2 separate regions of the Homo sapiens genome follow, and region 2 is linked to region 1. The links come from fine-mapping of genetic effects on gene expression. A gene starts in region 1. The other region holds a variant in brackets. All regions are shown on one strand. Distances are between the middles of the regions.

Region 1 (9,867 bases):
GGGGGCCTGGAGTCCTGGGTCCAGGAAGGAGGGGCTGGGGGCCTGGAGTCCTGGGTCTGAGGGAGGAGGTACTGGGGCCCGGGAATCCTGGGTCTGAGGGAGGAGGAGCTGGAGGACTAGACTCCTGGATCTGAGGGAGGAGGGGCTGGGTCCCAGGAATCCTGGGTCTGAGGGAGGAGGGGCTGCAGGACTAGACCCCTGGGTCTGAAGGAGGAGAGGCTGGGGGCCTGGGCTCCTGGGTCTGAGGGCGGAGGTCCTGGGGCCTGCATTCCTGGGGCGGAGGAGGCGGGCCGGGCCTCAGGGCCCTCACCTTCCCAGCTGATGACCAGCACCTCGCTGCGCTGCGACAGCACGTAGGGCGCGGAGGGCGTGTGATAGTAGCAGCTGTAGGTGCCGGGGGCGCGGGCGCCCAGCAGCGTGAAGTCGGCCCAGGGCTGCGCGGAGTGGCGGTACTGCAGCGGGGCCGCCACGCCCTCGCGGTACAGCACGAAGCTCATGTTCCGCAGGCGGCCCGCGCAGCGCAGGCTCACGTTGGCGCCAGGACCCACCACCGGCCCGGGCAGCGCCACCAGCGACGGCCGCGGCAGCTCCTCTGCAGAGACGGGGTGAGAGTCCGGGGCCGCGTGAGCGTCTTCCGCTCGCTCGCTCGCTCTGTTTCTCCTTCTCCTCTGTCTCTCGCTTTCTCTGTGCCTCTCTCTCTCTTTCTGCCTCTCTTTCTCTCTGCCTGTCTCTCTCTCTGTCTGCCTCTCTCTCTGCCTCCCTCTCTCTCTGCCTCCCTCTCTCTGCCTCCCTCTCTCTCTGCCTCCCTCTCTCTCTGCCTCCCTCTCTCTCTGCCTCCCTCTCTCTCTGCCTCCCTCTCTCTCTGCCTCCCTCTCTCTCTGCCTGCCTCTCTCTCTGCCTGCCTCTCTCTCTGCCTCCCTCTCTCTGCCTCCCTCTCTCTCTGCCTCCCTCTCTCTCTGCCTCCCTCTCTCTCTGCCTCCCTCTCTCTCTGCCTCCCTCTCTCTCTGCCTGCCTCTCTCTCTGCCTCCCTCTCTCTCTGCCTCCCTCTCTCTCTGCCTCCCTCTCTCTCTGCCTCCCTTTCTCCTTCTGCCTCTTTCTCTCTCTCTCCCCCCGCACTGTACCTCTCTCTCTCTCTGCTCCCCTGTCTCTCTCTCTCCCCCTAGTGTCTCTGTATCTGTCTTTTCTTGTGTCTGTGAATCTGTTTGCCCGCCTCGCTCTGTCTCTCTTTCCCTATATCTCTCTGTCCCTCCCCCAACTCCCTTGTTCCACCCACTTCTCCTCCCCGACCCCAGGACCTCACCTGTCACCAGCAGCTCCAGGACATCGCTGGGCTGGGACCAGACACCCGGCCCCCAGTCTGGCCTTCGGTAGCAGCAGCGGTAACTTCCCCCTTGGGCTGGAGTCACCTCCTCCAGAAAGAATTCTGCCAGCTCGGAGGACACATCCCGGAAGAGAAGGGGAGCGATCTCTCCAGGCTTGAAAAGTCCAAATCTCCAAGCGGGTTGGGGTGCCCGGCATCTCAAGGTCACGTTGACCCCAGGGGTCACAACTGTAGCCGGCTGAGCTCCCAGCCATGGCTTAGGGTGGTATGAAGCTGGGGGGACTGAATAAACGGGGCTGCCTGGGTCCTCGGGCCTCCTGGGAGCCCCAGAAGATGAAAGGGAAGTTGGGGAAGGAGGAAAATCACCTTGGACAATTACTGCCCCTTTCTTAGCCTCAGTTTCCTGTTTGTAAAATCAGGGAGAGACTGGACTACAATCAAGCCTTGTTAAAACCAGGTGCAAATCAGAGGGGCAGGACAGAAACTTCTGAGCTTTACTCCACAGTTTGTAAACACAGTTTCAAAAGGTCAGGTCCCAGAACTCTGTAATTTTATTATTATTATTATTTTTAAGTAATGAGATGGGAGGGGGCGGTCTCCCTATGTTGAGCAGGTTGGTCTTAAACTACTGGCCTCAAGCAATCCTCCCACCTCGGCCTCCCAAAGTGCTAAGTTTACAAGCTTGTGCCACCACACCCAGACTTTTTTTTTTTTTTTTTTTTTTTTTTTTGAGGCAGGGTCTTGCTCTGTTGCTCAGGCAGGAGTGCAGTGGCATGTTCTCAACTCACTGCAGCCTCAATCTCTTGGGCTCAAACAGTCCTCCACCTCAGCCTCCTGAGTACCTGGGACCACAGGCACATGCCACTACACCAGGCTAATTTTTTTTTTTTTAATTTTTAGTAGAGACGAGCATTCGCTATATTGCCCAGGCTACTCTTGAACTCTTGGGCTCAAGCAATCCTCCCACCTCGGCCTCCCAAAGTGCTGGGATTACAGGTGTGAGCCACCACGCCCAGCCAGAACTCTAATTTTAAATAGCTTTCCAGAATATTTGCAATATAGTATTTCAAGAGTTGCCAAAACTTGCTATTTGGAAAAGAAAAATGTTGGATCCCTACCTCATACCATTTCCCAAAACAACTTCCAGATTAATTAAAGACCCTGTGTTTCTTTTTTTTTAAACTATAAAAGTATTCAAAAAACTATAGGAAAATATATTTGTCTTGGGGTAAGGAAGGCTTCTTAAAATATAAAATAAAAAGTTGTATGGAAGATTAATTAATTTGACCACTTCAAATTTCTTAAGTTGTGTATGCTAAAAGACAAAACTAGAGGACAAATGATAGTACTGGCAGATATCACTTATTCACAAATCACACAAATTAAGAGTACAGGAAGGCTGTTGGGTCCGGTGGCTCACAGCTGTAATCCCAGCACTTTGGGAGGCCAAGGTGGGTGCATCACCTGAGGTCAGGAGTTCAAGACCAGCCTGACCAACATGGTAAAATCCCATCTCTACTAAAAACAGAAAAATTAGCCAGGCGTGGTAGTGCTAGCTTGTAGTTCCAGCTGTTTGGGATGCTGAGTAGGAGAATTACTTGAACCCTAGAGTCGGAGGCTGCAGTTAGCTGAGATCATGCCACTGCACTCCAGCCTGGGCAACAGAGTGAGAACTCCATGGTGGCATGCACTTTGGGAGGCTGAGGCTGGAGGATTGTCTGAGCCCAGGAATTCAAAGCTGCAGTGAGCTATGATAGAGCCACCGTACTCCAGCCCGGGTGACACAATGAGACCCCATCTCTAAAAATGAATAAAAATAAGGGTCGGGTGAGGGGGCTCATGTTTGTAATCCCAACACTTTGGGAGGCTGAGGCAGAGGGATCACCTGAGGTCAGGAGTTCCAGACCAGCCTGACCAACATGGGGAAACCCTGTCTCTACTAAAAATACAAAAATTATCCGGGCATTGTGGTGTGTGCCTGTAGTCCCAGCTACTCAGGAGGCTGAGGCAGGAGAATCCCTTGAACCCAGGAGGTGGTTGCAGTGAGCCGAGATTGCACCACTGCACTCCGGCCTGGGCGACAGAGAGAAACTGGTCTCAAAATAAATAAATAAATAAATAAAATAAATAGGTAGAGATAGCTATAGCGACACTGAAATATCTCCAAAAGAGTTTTTTTTGTTTGTTTGTTTGTTTTTGAAGTGGAGTCTTGCACTGTCACCCAGGCTGGAGTGCAGTGGCGCGATCTCAGCTTACTGCAACCTCTGCCTCCTGGGTTCAAGCGATTCTCTTGCCTCAGCCTCCTGAGTAGCTGGGATTACAGGTGCGTCCCACCACACCCGGCTAATTTTTTTTTTTTTTTTTTTTTTTTAGTAGAGACGGGGTTTCACCACATTAGCCAGGATGATCTCGATCTGACCTTGTGATCCGCCCGCCTCTGCCTCCCAAAGTGCTGGGATTACAGACGTTGGCCATTGCGCCCAGCCCAAGATCCTATTTCTTAAGCCCTGTACTGTGCCAGGCTCAGGGTTTTGCACATGTGATTTGATGAGATCTCACAGCGGCCCATTTTACAGAGAAGGAAATGGAGTCTTAGCAAGCTGTGACTTGTTCTAGGTCATATGGTCACATATAAATGAATACGATGGTGAAACTGAGGTCCTAGCTTAGGCCTCTGCCTCAGAAGTTCCTGGTCTTCAGTACTCACCTATAATGGCCACTAAGGGGAATGAGAAAAGAAGGAAGGAATGGAGGGAGGGAGGAAAATAAGGATATCTGGGATGGGATTGGGCACCAAAATAAAATCTGAGTAATTGGAAAAGGGGTGTCAGCAACAAAAGGAGAGTGGATGGGGTGGCTACTCACCAGACGGAGTGATGTCTGTGTGACACAGAGGCCCTGTAGGAGGTTGAGGGACTAGTTTCTTTTTCCTTTTTTTTTTTTTGTCTGAGGCAGAGTCTCACTCTGTCGCCCAGGCTGGAGTGTAGTGGTGTGATCTCAGCTCACTGCAACCTCTGCCTCCCAGGTTCAAGTGATTCTCCTGCCTCAGCCTCCGTAGTAGCTGGGACTACAAGTGCCCGCCACCACACCAGGCTAATCTTTGTATTTTTAGTAGAGAGGGGTTTCGCCATGTTGGTCAGGCTGGTCTTGAACTCCTGTCCTCAGGTGATCCACCCGCCTCGGCCTCCCAAAGTGCTGGGCCTCGGCTCCCACAGGCATGAGCCGCTGCGCCCAACAGCGAGTTCTTTTCAAAACCCTTTGTGGCCAGCCCCATCTCATTGGTAACCCAGGAATCTGAGTTCCCAGCTCCTATCTCCTCTGGGAAATGAGAATCTTATCCCTCCCTCCTCCTGTCTCAGTAGGCAGAAATTTGGACATCCATTGCCCACCTACCGAAGAAGTCTGAACGCAGACCCCTCTGGCCTGGGCAACCAAGAGTTCAGGCCCTTGAACTCCACCTTTCCAGGGAACAATGATCGTAGAGTTTCTCCTCTCACGAGTTCAGGAATCTGGGTCCCCATTTCCCTCTTCTCTCAGGAGCTAAGAGCCCTGTTCCCAGCCCCCTTTTCCCAGGGAATCAGGAGTCCTGGCTTCCATCCCCCTCCCATATAAGAATCTGGGAGTCCTCCCTGTCTCCTGACCTCTTCCTGCCTCAAGAACCAGAGATACCTGTCCCCACCTCCTTCCTCTTTCGGGAATCTGTGTTCTCTTGCTTTAGGACCCAGGGGTCTGGGCCCCAGCCCTGTTCTTTATTTGAACCTAGAATCCCAAACCTGCTGCCTGGTCCCCCTGCAGGGTGTCTGGGTCTCCATTGCCTCTCTCTCTGCCCCCAACCCCAGCCAGGAACCCAGGGAGAAGAAAGGGGTGACTCACAGAGGGTCAGCAGCTGGAGGATCAGCACCAGGGCCATGGTGGGCAGATACCCGCTAGAGCTGGAGCCAGGGCTTGGTCGCACCCTCTCCCCTCCCAGGAAATGAGGCAACATCAGAAAACCAGACCCAGATCCTCATTTACGGAAGAGAGTATCGAGGTGGGGGCCTGTGGGTGACTGTGTCATAGCCCTATGGCACTGTGGAAAAATTAGCAGGGGGTTCAGTCATAACCTGTGGTGTTCATTTATTTAACTCTAGAAACAAATACTAGTCAGGAGGTGGAGGCAGGAGGATCGCTTGAGCCCAAGAGTTCAAGAGCAGCCTGGGCAACAGAGCGAGACCCTGTCTAAAAAATAAATAAATAAATTGTGCCACTGCACTCCAGCCTGGGTGATAGAGTGAGACCATGTCTTTAAATATAGATAGACAGATAGAAAGATATCTGTCTGTTTTAAAAATAAGAACCTATTATGTGCCAGACTCTTGCTGTCATTGATTGACAGATAGATAAAAATTTGCACCTATTATGTGCCAGGCCCTTGCTGTGATTGAAAGATAGATAGATGGATGGATGGATAGATAGATAGATAGATAGATAGATAGATAGATAAAAATTAGCACCTGTTAAGTGCCAGGCCCTTGCTGTGATTGATTGATGGATAGATAAAAATTAACACCAATTATGTGCCAGGCCCTTGCTGTGATTAATTGATCGATTGATAGATTGGTTGACAGAGAAAAATTAGCACCTATTATGTGCCAGGCTCTTGGTGTGATACTGTGTTAGATAGATAGATAGATAAAAATTAGCCCCTCTAGGCCGGGCGCGGTTGTTCACGCCTGTAATCCCAGCACTTTGGGAGGCCAAGGCGGGTGGATCACCTGAGGTCGGGAAGTTCGAGACCAGCCTGACCAACATGGAGAAACCCCCGTCTCTCCTAAAAAAGAAAAATTAGCCGGCTGTGGAGGCGCGCGCCTGTAATCCCAGCTATTCAGGAGGCTGAGGCAGGAGAATCGCTTGAACTCGGGAGTCGGAGGTTGCTGTGAGCCGAGATCGCGCCATTGCACTCCAGCCTGGGCGACAGAGCTAGACTCAATCTCAGAAGAAAAAAAAAAAAATTAGAACCTATTACGTGCCAGACCCTCGCTGTGCCATGTTGGCAGGCACAGAGGGAACTCAGACTCCGTTACTGCTCTCAAGCAGCAGCTACCAGTCCGACTGAAAGACCAAGACCAGGTCAGTTTCTTTTTTTTTGAGACGGAGTCTCGCTCTGTCGCCCAGGCTGGAGTGCAGTGGTGTGATCTCGGCTCACTGCAAGCTCCGCCTCCCGGGTTCACGCCATTCTCCTGCCTTAGCCTCCCCAGTAGCTGGGACTACGGGCGCCCACCACCACGCCCGGCTAATTTGTGTTGTATTTTTAAGTAGAGACAGGGTTTCACCATGTTAGCCAGGATGGTCTAGATCTCCTGACCTCGTGATCCGCCCGCCTCGGCCTCCCAAAGTGCTGGGATTACAGGCGTGAGCCACCGCGCCTGGCCCAGACCAGGTCAGTTTCTTAAGTGATCTGAGCTATAATGGCGGTAACAGAGCACTGTGAGAGCCCGCAGAAAGCTCCTAACCCATCTGGGATGAGACCTAGCGCTTCCAGGACGAGCCGATGTTGAGCTGAGACCTCGAAGGACAGGTTAGTCATTCACCTTCTCCCGGGCTCAGTTTCTTCGTCTGTAAAATGGGCTTTCATACATAAACTATAAAATGGGGACTATTTTGTTCCGCCTTAGGTGGGTCGCAGCAGGAGGACTAGTCACTCCGGAGCGACTTCTAGGCTGAGACTAAGGAGATTCCACGCAGGTCCGCAAAGTCAGGCTTGCGCTTGCTCCTGACACCACTTCCTTTACCTCCACGGCTCCATCTTTGTTCTGCGCGAGTGCGCACGCGCAGGCTCCGAAAGCGGGCCGTCGCACAGAGGGACCACAACTCCCAGAGTGCTCCGCGTCCTTGCTTTCGCCTCTACTTGTGCTCCAGGGCGCACGCGCAGCCCTGGGAGCGGGTTCTCGCGCATAGGGACCACAACTCCCAGGGTGCTCCGCGTCCTCGCCGCTGTCGCCGCCGCGGAGACAAAGATGGCTGCGAGTAAGTGCAGGTGCCGGTGGCGCACGGGGCTCGGGTAGTTCTGGGAACCTCTGGGCGGTCCTGGGACTGAGGTGCGGCAGGGCAGGGGTGGAAGCGATGGGGTCCGTGCTGGAGGGGAACGCAGAAGTCACGAGGGGGCTCCTCCAGGGCAGGGGTGGCACGAGAGGGTTAGAGGTCACCGGGGGCAGCTACTTGCAGGGGTGACGCTTCTTGCCACCCCTTCAGGAGTCGGCGCCTTCCTCAAGAATGCCTGGGACAAGGAGCCAGTGCTGGTCGTGTCCTTCGTCGTCGGGGGCCTCGGTGCGTGAGTGCTCCAGGCGCAAACTTGCATCGTCCACCCCCGTCCCCCTACATCCCTCCATCTTGTACCCCTAAAGCCCTATCGCCGCCCTCGGGTCCCCTCTAGTGTGTCTGCACCCCCACGGCATCCCCTTATCTATCCCCATACCCATTATAACCTCTCCACCATCGCCCCCCGCGTTCCTCTCCACCTACCCAATACGCTCTTAACCCCTCTAAATGAGACGTTCTCAACCCTGCTTATGCCTTAACACCTGAGCACCAAAAAAAAGTCCAGATCCTCCTCCTCCTTTTCATCTTTCCTCTCCCCCATTCTGAATTGAGTTGGCTTGGGTGGAGGTGGGACTGGGGAATCTGTGTCTTGTGAAAATCCCCGTATGATCCCAATGTGCCTTGCTGATTGAAAATCTCTGCCCTCTGCCCTGGAACTGCCCTACTCACACTTTAATTAGCACCGGAGTTCCTGCAGGGATGGGGGCGGGGGATTGTTAAAATGTAGCTTTTTTTTTTGCGATGGAGTCTCACTCTCACCCAGGCTGAAGTGCAGTGGCGCGATCCCGGCTCACTGCAACCTCGGCCTCCTGGGTTCAAGGGATTCTCCTGCCTCAGCCTCCCGAGTAGCTGGGATTACAGGCGCCCAGCTAATTTTTTGTTTTTGTTTTTGAGACTGAGTCTCGCTCTGTCGCCCAGGCTGGAGTGCAGTGGCGCGATCTCGGTTCAGTGCAAGCCCCGCCTTCCGGGTTCACGCCATTCTCCTGCCTCAGCCTCCCGAGTAGCTGGGACTACAGGCGCCCGCCCCCATGCCCGGCTAATTTTTTGTATGTTCAATAGAGACGGGGTTTCACCGTGTTAGCCAGGATGGTCTCGATCTCCTAACCTCGTGATCCTCCCAACTCGGTCTCCCAAAGTGCTGGGATTACAGGCGTGAGCCACCGCGCCCGGCCAGCTTTTTTTTTTTTTTTTTTTTGAGATGGCGTCTCGCTCTGTCTTCCAGGCTACAGTGCAATGGTTTGATCATGGCTCACTGCAACCTCCGCCTCTAGGGTTCAAGTGATTCTCCTGCCTCCGCCTCCCAAGTAGCTGGGATTACAGGCGAGCACCACCACGCCCGGCTAATTTTTGTATTTTTAGTAGAGACAAGGTTTCACCATGTTGGCCAGGCTGGTCTTGAACTCCTGACCGCAAGTGATCTGCCTTCCCAAAGTGCTGGGATTACAGGGGTGAGCCACTGCGCCCGGCCAAACTGTAGGTTCTGATTCTGTAGGTCTGGGGTGGGGCATGGGATTCTGCATTTTTGAAGAGTTCCCAGGTCTTGTCAGTACTGCTGGTCCACCAGCCAGGCACTAGGTTAAGGTTCTGAACACTTATTCAGTATGGCAGCCACCAGCCACAACTGGCCACTGAGCATTTGAAGTGGTGCTGGTATGAATTGAGGTGGTATAAGACACTGGATTTCAAAAACTTAGTATAACAGAGTGTGTAAACTACCAATAATCTTTTGTTGATTACATGGCGAAGTGATGTTTTGGATGTACTATGGTTTTTTTTGTTTGTTTGTTTTTGTTTTTTTGAGACGGAGTTTCGCTTTTGTCCAGGCTAGAGTGCAATGGCCTGATCTCGGCTCACTGCAACCTCCGCCTCCCGGGTTCAAGCGATTCTCCTGTCTCAGCCTCCTTAGTAGCTGGGATTACAGGCGCATGCCACTACACCTGGCTGTTTTTGTATTTTCAGTAGAGACGGGGTTTCATCATATTGGTCAGGCTGGTCTCGAACTCCTGACCTCAGGTGATCCACCCGTCTCAGCCTCCTAAAGTCCTGGGATTATAGGCATGAGCCACCTCGCCCATCCAAGTATGTTTCTTAAAATTTGTTTCATCTGTATCTCTTATTTTTACTGTAGCTACTAGAAGATATAAAATTATATACCTGGCTCTTACCATCTGTCAGACAGCACTGGCCTAGAACATTCCTTTTATGAACTGTACCCCATCCCCCAGGACTCCTGGCTCCCACCCTAAATGGACTGTGGTCAGTGACTGTTGTTTGTGCAACCCTTTCTCCTCCAGTTTGTAAGGCTTTTTTTTTTTTTTTTTTTTTGGTGATGGAGTCTCTCTCTGTTGCCCAGGCTGGAGTGCAATGGCACAATCTGGGCTCACTGCAACCTCTGCCTCCCAGGCTCAAGGGATTCTTCTGCCTCAGCCTCCTGAGTAGCTGGGATTACAGGCTCCTGCCACCACGCC
Region 2 (8,000 bases), 26 kb after region 1:
CACCAGCAAGGCGCTTCTTTTCTTTAAGAACATGTCACTGCAGCTCACGTTTTACAGACCAGAACTAATTCCCCTGGTCACACCTAGCGGTAAGGACGGCTGAGAAAGGCTGTATGCTGGTGCCCGTGTGCCAGGCCACAAGCCAGGGCTTCAGTTACTAAAGGAAGAAGGGGACATGGGTGTTAGGGCCAACCAGCAGAGTCTACCTTCCATCTCACCCGACAACCTCCTGTCCCGTTTACCCTAGACATCATCCATAAGTTCATCCGGGATAAGTACTCAAAGAGATTCCCTGAACTGGAGTCCTTGGTCCCCAATGCACTGGATTACATCCGCACGGTCAAGGTGAGCGCAGAGAAGGTGGGGTGCTTCTGCTGGCGTGAAGGGGCAGGCGGGGCTCACTCTCGGACCCCCTCCCAGAGGCCTGAGGGTCTGGAGACGATGGAGAGGAGTGGACGAGGGCTCAGTGGTCTGCTCTGCCCAGCGTGGGAGGGACGGAGCCTGGACAGGACTTTCTCAGGGCTCCCCTCCAACCCCAGTCTCCCGAGAGGGCTTCCCCGCTGGCCTGACCCACGCTGCTCCCGCTGTGGTTGGAGCCGGTGGCATTGGAGTTGACATCCGAAGGTTGACACAGGGCAGGCACACGGAGATTTGGGGGAGAGAGACGTCTAAGTGCAGAGAGCTGGAGAGGGAACAAGTGGGGAGGAAGTGAGGCGGGGAAGGAGGGGACGGGGAAGAGGTCGGATCACGTCCAGCCTTTGGGTCTTAGGAGAAAGCCAAGGAAGGGTTTCGGAAAAGAGGGGCAGGTGTGCGTGAGGGCGGGGAGAGGAGGAGGTCCCCACGCATGTCCAGGAAAGGATTAGGATGGCGGTGGGGAAGCCCCTGCAGGGAAGCGAGGCCGCGGATTTGCACTCCGACTTGACGCAGGCCAGAGGCTTGTGAGGCCACAGTCTTTCCAGACGCCACTCTGCCCGGGCTCCGTTTCCAGGTCAGCGAAAGCAGGGCAGATGGTGTGGATGCTTGACGTGGTGGAGGCAGGAATGGTGTGGATGCTTCAGGCGGTGGAGGCAGGAGAGGCCCCCAGTGCAGAGACCCTGACTGTCCCAGTGTCCCTAAGAAGAGACCTGAGGAGGTGCTGAGCAAGAGAGGTTCTCGAGCCTTCCTGAGTTCCCGAGCCTCCCCTATCTTCTCTGCTCGCCCCCAGGAGCTGGGCAACAGCCTGGACAAGTGCAAGAACAATGAGAACCTGCAGCAGATCCTCACCAATGCCACCATCATGGTCGTCAGCGTCACCGCCTCCACCACCCAGGGGTATGTCCGCTTCGAGGGAGGCGCCGGGCCCTAATGGGATTGGGGATTAGGCTGGAGCTACACACGCAGGTGTACACACGCACACACACATACACACATGCACACACACACACAGAACCGAGAGGGCTGGGGCTGGGCACACCAGGCAGGCGGGAGACCCAGGAGGCTGGGCCCACCCGCCCCTGCAGGCAGCAGCTGTCGGAGGAGGAGCTGGAGCGGCTGGAGGAGGCCTGCGACATGGCGCTGGAGCTGAACGCCTCCAAGCACCGCATCTACGAGTATGTGGAGTCCCGGATGTCCTTCATCGCACCCAACCTGTCCATCATTATCGGGGCATCCACGGCCGCCAAGATCATGGGTGAGTCCCCGGGCTGGGTCCCATGGAGCGGGGGTCTGCTGACACTGTGACCTTGGGAAAGCTACATCCTTTTCTGTAGAATGGGGGCTTTGGCACCTGGACCTCAGCACCCCGTCTCCCTGGACATCACAGAGGTCAGCCAGCCTGGCACACAGCAAAGCCTCATCTGTGGGAAAAACACTCACCCACAGCTCCTTCTCCCTCCCCTGTGCCGGAAACCCAGAGATGACCACACCCAGGCCCTGTTGTCAGGGAGCTCCTGGTTTGGTGAAAATGGTTCCAAAACACAGCCATCCCTGGAACGGCGTTAGTGTGGCTTAGCACAAACGTGGTGGTCAGCTTCCTGTTGGGGGCCTCCTCCCTGCACCCCCAGGCCAGCTGCCCTCCCTCTCTGAGCCTCCTTTGCATCTGCCCCTTGCGGAATGGGCCAGGTCGCCCGCCTGGCAGGGCCATCGAGGAATCCAACCAGAACTTCATGTAAAGGTGCCCAGCACACGTCGAGCCCCCAGGCAGATTTACTCACCCCCACCTCTCTGCTTTCTTCTGACCGCCCCCCCTTCCTCCCTCCCTCCCACCGCAGGTGTGGCCGGCGGCCTGACCAACCTCTCCAAGATGCCCGCCTGCAACATCATGCTGCTCGGGGCCCAGCGCAAGACGCTGTCGGGCTTCTCGTCTACCTCAGTGCTGCCCCACACCGGCTACATCTACCACAGTGACATCGTGCAGTCCCTGCCACCGGTGAGCCCACTGCGTCATGGCCCCTCCCCCGGCCCCCCTGGAGCCTTCCGCTGTGCCCAGACAGCCTGAGCAGCCACCCACCATCTGGCCCAGCTGACGGTAGCACTCAGGAGCTGGGAACAGGGTGGCATGGGACGTGAGAGCCAGGGCTCTGCAGCAGACCAGCTCCAGCACCCACCAGTCAGGTGACTGTGGGCAAGAGGCATGAGCGCCCTGTGCCTCAGTCTCCTCCCCTATCAAATGGGAGCACAGCGCCTGCTTCATGAGTTGGGACGAGGGCTCAGTGCACATGAAGCACTTACAGTTCAGGCCTAGCTCACGACAAGCAGCGTCGGGTTAGCGTGCAACTGCTCCGAAGACCACCCTCAGGTTTGACCATTCACTAGAAAGACTCACAGAATCCACTGAGGGCTGCACATCAGCCATGGGGAGAGACACACAGGAGGGGCAGGAGAGGTCACCAACCTCGGAGCTTCCCGGGTCCTCTCCCTGCAGTCGGGACACATCACCATCCCAGCATCGACGCCTGACAGCACACACACAGGCCCGCTAGCCTGGCGGGGCGCAGTGGCTCGTGCCTGTCATCCCAGCACTTTGGGAGGCCGAGGCGGGCAGATCACCTGAGGTCAGGTGTTCGAGACCAGCCTGGCCAACATGGTGAAACCCCATCTCTACCAAAAATACAAAAAACTAGCTGGGTATAGTGGCACACACTTATAATCCCAGCTACTTGGGAGGCTGAGGCAGGAGAATCGCTTGAACCCAGGAGGTGGAGGTTGCAGTGAGCTAAGATCATACCACTGCCCTCCAGCCTGGGTGACAGAGTGAGACTCTGTCTCAAAAAAAAAAAAAAACAAGCAAGACAGGTTCTGGGACAGACAGGCCTGGGTCCAGACCCTGCTCTGTCCAACTGTGGCGAGTTACCTCAGGCTCACGGCCCTGTGCCCTGCCTGGCCTCCCCCAGGGATGGGGAGAACAATAGCACTGATGGCCAAGGCTGGGCAGGCACTTCCTGGCCCCACCCCCCAGCCCTGTGTGGGGTTTTTTTTGTGGTCTTTTCTGCGACCCTTTAGGTCAGGCACTGCTACTGGAACACACCCAGGGAGGCTGGCAGGTCACCCCATCCTGGGAGGAGAGAGAGTGGGCGATAGAACCCAGGACGGGTGGGCCTGGGGCTCGGGGCTCCAGCTGCCTCACTGCACCCCTGCCATCGCCACCGCCTCACAGCCCTGGGCATATGGGTTAAACCTGCCCCAGGGAGCCTGATGTCTTGTCACCCAGGCCTCTGCCTCTTCATTTGGCCATCTCACATCGGTCCAGGCACAGGCCGTAGACACCACAGGCCTGTAAGGGAGGCCAGGGCTGGCCATCGCTTCACTGTGGCTGACAGCTGGGCTCTGTTTGCAGTTTGGATTGGAACCCTGGCTCCATCACCTGCTGGCTGTCTCCCTGGCCACATGACTTGAAGCCTTGGTTTCCACATCTGAAAAGGGGGTGCAATGATCACACCAGCCCGATATTTGAATATTTGATGAGATGATCCGAGGGGCGTGCTTAGCATGGGGCTGGCATCCAGGCCGAGTGCACTCCCCCCGGCGTCTCCACAGTCACCACCGTCCTCGTTGTCAGCGTGCCTTACTGTCATCCTTACCTGATGGCCACTTA[T/C]CAGCTGGGACATGGCTCTGTGCCCTGCCCTCATCCCCTCTTCCTGTGAAGTAGGAGCTGAGAGCACACACCTCTAGAGCCCAAGGGTGGAAAGCCCCCTTCCAGGACCCCAGGTAGAGCCAGAGGAGGAGCGCGCGCGGTTGCTTTGCTGTTACCTCTGTCTGTCTGTCTCACACAGATTCCACCCCCGTTTTCCGTTGCTCCAGGATCTGCGGCGGAAAGCGGCCCGGCTGGTGGCCGCCAAGTGCACACTGGCAGCCCGTGTGGACAGTTTCCACGAGAGCACAGAAGGGAAGGTGAGGAGGGAAAGGTGAGGGGCGGCCGGGCGTCTTTTCCTCTGGGCCTGGGGTGTCTCTGCAGGGAGACCCTCAGCAGGGAGCCCACCCCAGCGAGCACTGTCCTACCAAGGCGGAGGCAGTGCTTCTGCCCACCCTCCCTGGGGTCAGGCACCCCCTTCCCCAGTGGGGTTTCCTAGGTCTGCTGTTGGAAGGTAGCATGAACCTACTGGCTTAAAACAGTGCAGGTGTGGCCGGGTGCAGTAGCTCACGCCTGTAATCCCAGCACTTTGGGAGGCCAGGGTGGGCGGGTCACAAGGTCAGGAGTTTGAGACCAGCCTGGCCAACATGGTGAAACCCCATCTCTACCAAAATTAGCCGGGTGTGGTGGCACGCACCTGTAATCCCAGTTACTCAGGAGGCTGAGGCAGGAGAATTGCTTGAACCTGGGAGACGGAGGTTGCAGTGAACTGAGATTGCATCATTGCACTCCAGCTTGGGTGACATAGCGAGACTCCATCTAAAAACAAAAACAAAAAACAGTACAGGTTTATTATCTGTGGTCCTGTAGGTCAGAAGTCCAAAATGAGTTTCACTGGGCTGAAGTCAGGGTGTCATCCTGGAGCGTTCCTTCTGGGGGATTCAAGGGATAATCCATTCCCTGGTCTTTTCCAGCTTCTAGGGGTCACTGGCACCCCTTAGCTCGTGGCCCTCCCTCTGTCTGCGGAGCCAGCCACATAGCACCCTCAGACCTCTCTCTGACTCTGCTTCTGTCTTCATATCTCCGCCTCTGTTTTTGTTCCCCTCTTCTATTTTAAGGGCCCCTGTGGCTATACTGAGCCTACTCAGATGGTCCAGGATAGTCTTCCCAGCTCACAATCCTTAAAATCCTTCTTAACCTCTTCACGTCCCTTTTGCCCTGTGATTCTGGGAATTAGAACATGGGCCTCTTTGGGCATGTGTGTGTTGGTGGGGGCGTAATTTGCCTTCCACACCAGGATCTGTCCCCGCTGCAACAGGGGATGTTATTCAAGTAATTATTCAGTTACCTTCTGTCTTCCTTGGTAGATGTACTCGGGAGAGGAGACGTTTTCTGTCTTGTGAACTGTCGTTTGCCAAGCACCCGGCCTGGCACAGCGTTCAGGTGTTCCGTGTCCCCTTCTCCTTTCCCTCTCCCCATCTCACCCCTGGTCTGGGTGTGGGGGTGCAGCTGTGAGTAGCACAGACAGGACCCCTGCCCCGTGGCGTGGACATTCTTGTTGGGGCCGGGTCAAAGAGACAGTCAACAGGTGAACTCTGTCCTGCGTCTAGCGGTGCTAAGTCAACACCAAGAAGAAAAAGAAAGGGGGTGGCGGTGAGGCAGCATTAGGTGCTGATTTAACTAAGGCACGTGGATACTCGGGGGGCCCGCTCAGAGGAGGCCTGGGTGGGCAGCCCACGCGAGCAGCTGCAGGACCTCCCCCTCGCCCTCCCCAGGTGGGCTACGAACTGAAGGATGAGATCGAGCGCAAATTCGACAAGTGGCAGGAGCCGCCGCCTGTGAAGCAGGTGAAGCCGCTGCCTGCGCCCCTGGATGGACAGCGGAAGAAGCGAGGCGGCCGCAGGTGAGGGGCCCTGGGGGTCCGGTAGGCATGGGGGTCATGGAGGGGAGAAGCCGGCGTCCTCCTCCCAGCCGACTCCCTGGCGCCGCCCACCCACCCGTCCCCAGGTACCGCAAGATGAAGGAGCGGCTGGGGCTGACGGAGATCCGGAAGCAGGCCAACCGTATGAGCTTCGGAGAGGTCAGACTCCCAGAGCGCCCTCCTCAACCCCACAGCCAGCCAGCCGCCACCGCCCTCTGCCTCCTGCCACCGCCCCTCCTCTCGTCCTGTGGCCCTGGCTCATGTCTAGGGCGCTGCCCCAGCCTCCCCCCCCCCGGCCTCTATTCTCGTTTCCATCCGTTCAGCCCCAAAGCGACCCTCGCGACCCTTGGAGCCTGTGTCTCCGCTGCTTAGAGCCCCCGCGGCTTCCCATCGCCCCGGGCTCCTTGGCCGGTTCCTCCCTGCCCAGAGGCTCCTTAGTGCCCTGCTGCACGGCCGCCCCGTCCCTGGGCCCCGCCAGTCTCCTCTGTTATCCCAGCGTCATCCCCTTGGTCCTGCAGGACCGAACTCAGAGGCCACCTCATCCTATTAAACCTGTTCTGGTTCCTGACATCCCCCGACCCACACGAGTAAGGAAGGAATGGCCTCCCAACTCTGAGCTCACAGAGCAGTGCTGGGACCGGGCCCCTCTCAGGCTCCCCAGCATCCCCCGCGTGTGTGGGCCCCCAGGCCTCAGCCGGGCCGAGTGGGTACCGGAGCAGGTGCCCGTGGGACCGGCCGGCTGGTGACCGCTGGGCTTCGGGCTGGTGGAGGGGGTGCCTCGGTGGCTGGAGGGCAGGGCCTGGTCGCTGAACTGCAGGGCGCCTCCTCTCCCCCCTAGATCGAGGAGGACGCCTACCAGGAGGACCTGGGATTCAGCCTGGGCCACCTGGGCAAGTCGGGCAGTGGGCGTGTGCGGCAGACACAGGTAAACGAGGCCACCAAGGCCAGGATCTCCAAGACGCTGCAGGTATGGGCCAGACCCAGGTGGGGCTGGGGACCGAGGGACACAAGGTGGGGGGAGCCCAGATCGCAGCCTCCCTGTCCTCCCCACAGCGGACCCTGCAGAAGCAGAGCGTCGTATATGGCGGGAAGTCCACCATCCGCGACCGCTCCTCGGGCACGGCCTCCAGCGTGGCCTTCACCCCACTCCAGGTACCTCCCCTGGGCCGGCTCTGTCCCCAGCCCTGAGACCTTGGCAAGGCCCCTTGCCCTCTGCCCCTGTGAAGAAGGCCAGGATGAGTCTCCTCATGGGGCTGTTGTGGAGGGTGTGGTGACGAGGTATGCAGAGGACGTAGACAGCTCCTGGCACACAGGAAGAGGTTAGCAGAGACGAGAGCCCAGCGCTGAGCAGTCCTCGTGAGCACGCACTGCTTTAGAACCAGGCCCACAGCTGTGTTCAGGGCACCCAGTTCCTCTGTCGGGCTGTGAGCGGGTAACACTGCTCAGCCTCCAGGCCCTCCAGTTCAAAACGGCCAGGACGGTTAAGGTAACCTCAGGACCCCACTCGAGAAAGTTCCCGGCTAGGCGGGCTTGGATGTCAAGTGTGGGTCCAGGCCCCAGCCAGTCAGCAGTGAGCAGCGTGGAGCATGGCAGTCACCGCATCGTCGGAGCCTCGGTTTACCATCCACAGAGCAGGGCGAGCCTGCACCACGGAGGCGAGACAGCAGCGAGCTCATCTGCCCAGTCAGCGGGTGTCTACGCAGCACCTGCTGAGTTCTGTCAGTGTTCCCGGCTCTGGGGATGAAGCAACGAATGAGAGACAAGTCTTACCTTCTTGGAGCCAGTGGGTGGCCGGGCGCAGACAGCTCAGTAAGATGTCCAGTGTAGGAGAAGGCAGAAATGCCAGGCCGGGCGCAGACAGCTCAGTAAGATGTCCAGTGTAGGAGAAGGCAGAAATGCCAGGCCGGGCGCAGACAGCTCAGTAAGATGTCCAGTGTAGGAGAAGGCAGAAATGCCAGGCCGGGCGCAGACAGCTCAGTAAGATGTCCAGTGTAGGAGAAGGCAGAAATGCCAGGCTGGGCGCAGACAGCT

Evidence for each region.
Region 2: its variant is fine-mapped to the expression of OSCAR in whole blood (INTERVAL, PIP above 0.99).

The regions. Positions count from the first base shown.
Region 1 is chr19:54,095,562-54,105,428 of GRCh38, forward strand. It overlaps OSCAR (osteoclast associated Ig-like receptor), which reads right to left and starts at 5,242. Exons shown (of 5, transcript NM_133169.6): 1 at 5,195-5,242; 2 at 4,187-4,219; 3 at 1,301-1,603; 4 at 311-592. The coding sequence starts at 5,231. It overlaps NDUFA3 (NADH:ubiquinone oxidoreductase subunit A3), which reads left to right and starts at 7,294. Exons shown (of 4, transcript NM_004542.4): 1 at 7,294-7,327; 2 at 7,553-7,627. The coding sequence starts at 7,318. RefSeq lists an enhancer at 7,083-8,059.
Region 2 is chr19:54,122,250-54,130,249 of GRCh38, forward strand. PRPF31 (pre-mRNA processing factor 31) reads left to right here. Exons shown (of 14, transcript NM_015629.4): 5 at 248-345; 6 at 1,205-1,311; 7 at 1,500-1,669; 8 at 2,250-2,407; 9 at 4,279-4,368; 10 at 5,824-5,951; 11 at 6,056-6,128; 12 at 6,808-6,936; 13 at 7,023-7,121. PRPF31-AS1 (PRPF31 antisense RNA 1) reads right to left here and starts at 393. Exons shown (of 4, transcript NR_186329.1): 1 at 243-393; 2 at 1-157. The variant T/C (reference allele first, on the strand shown) is at 4,073.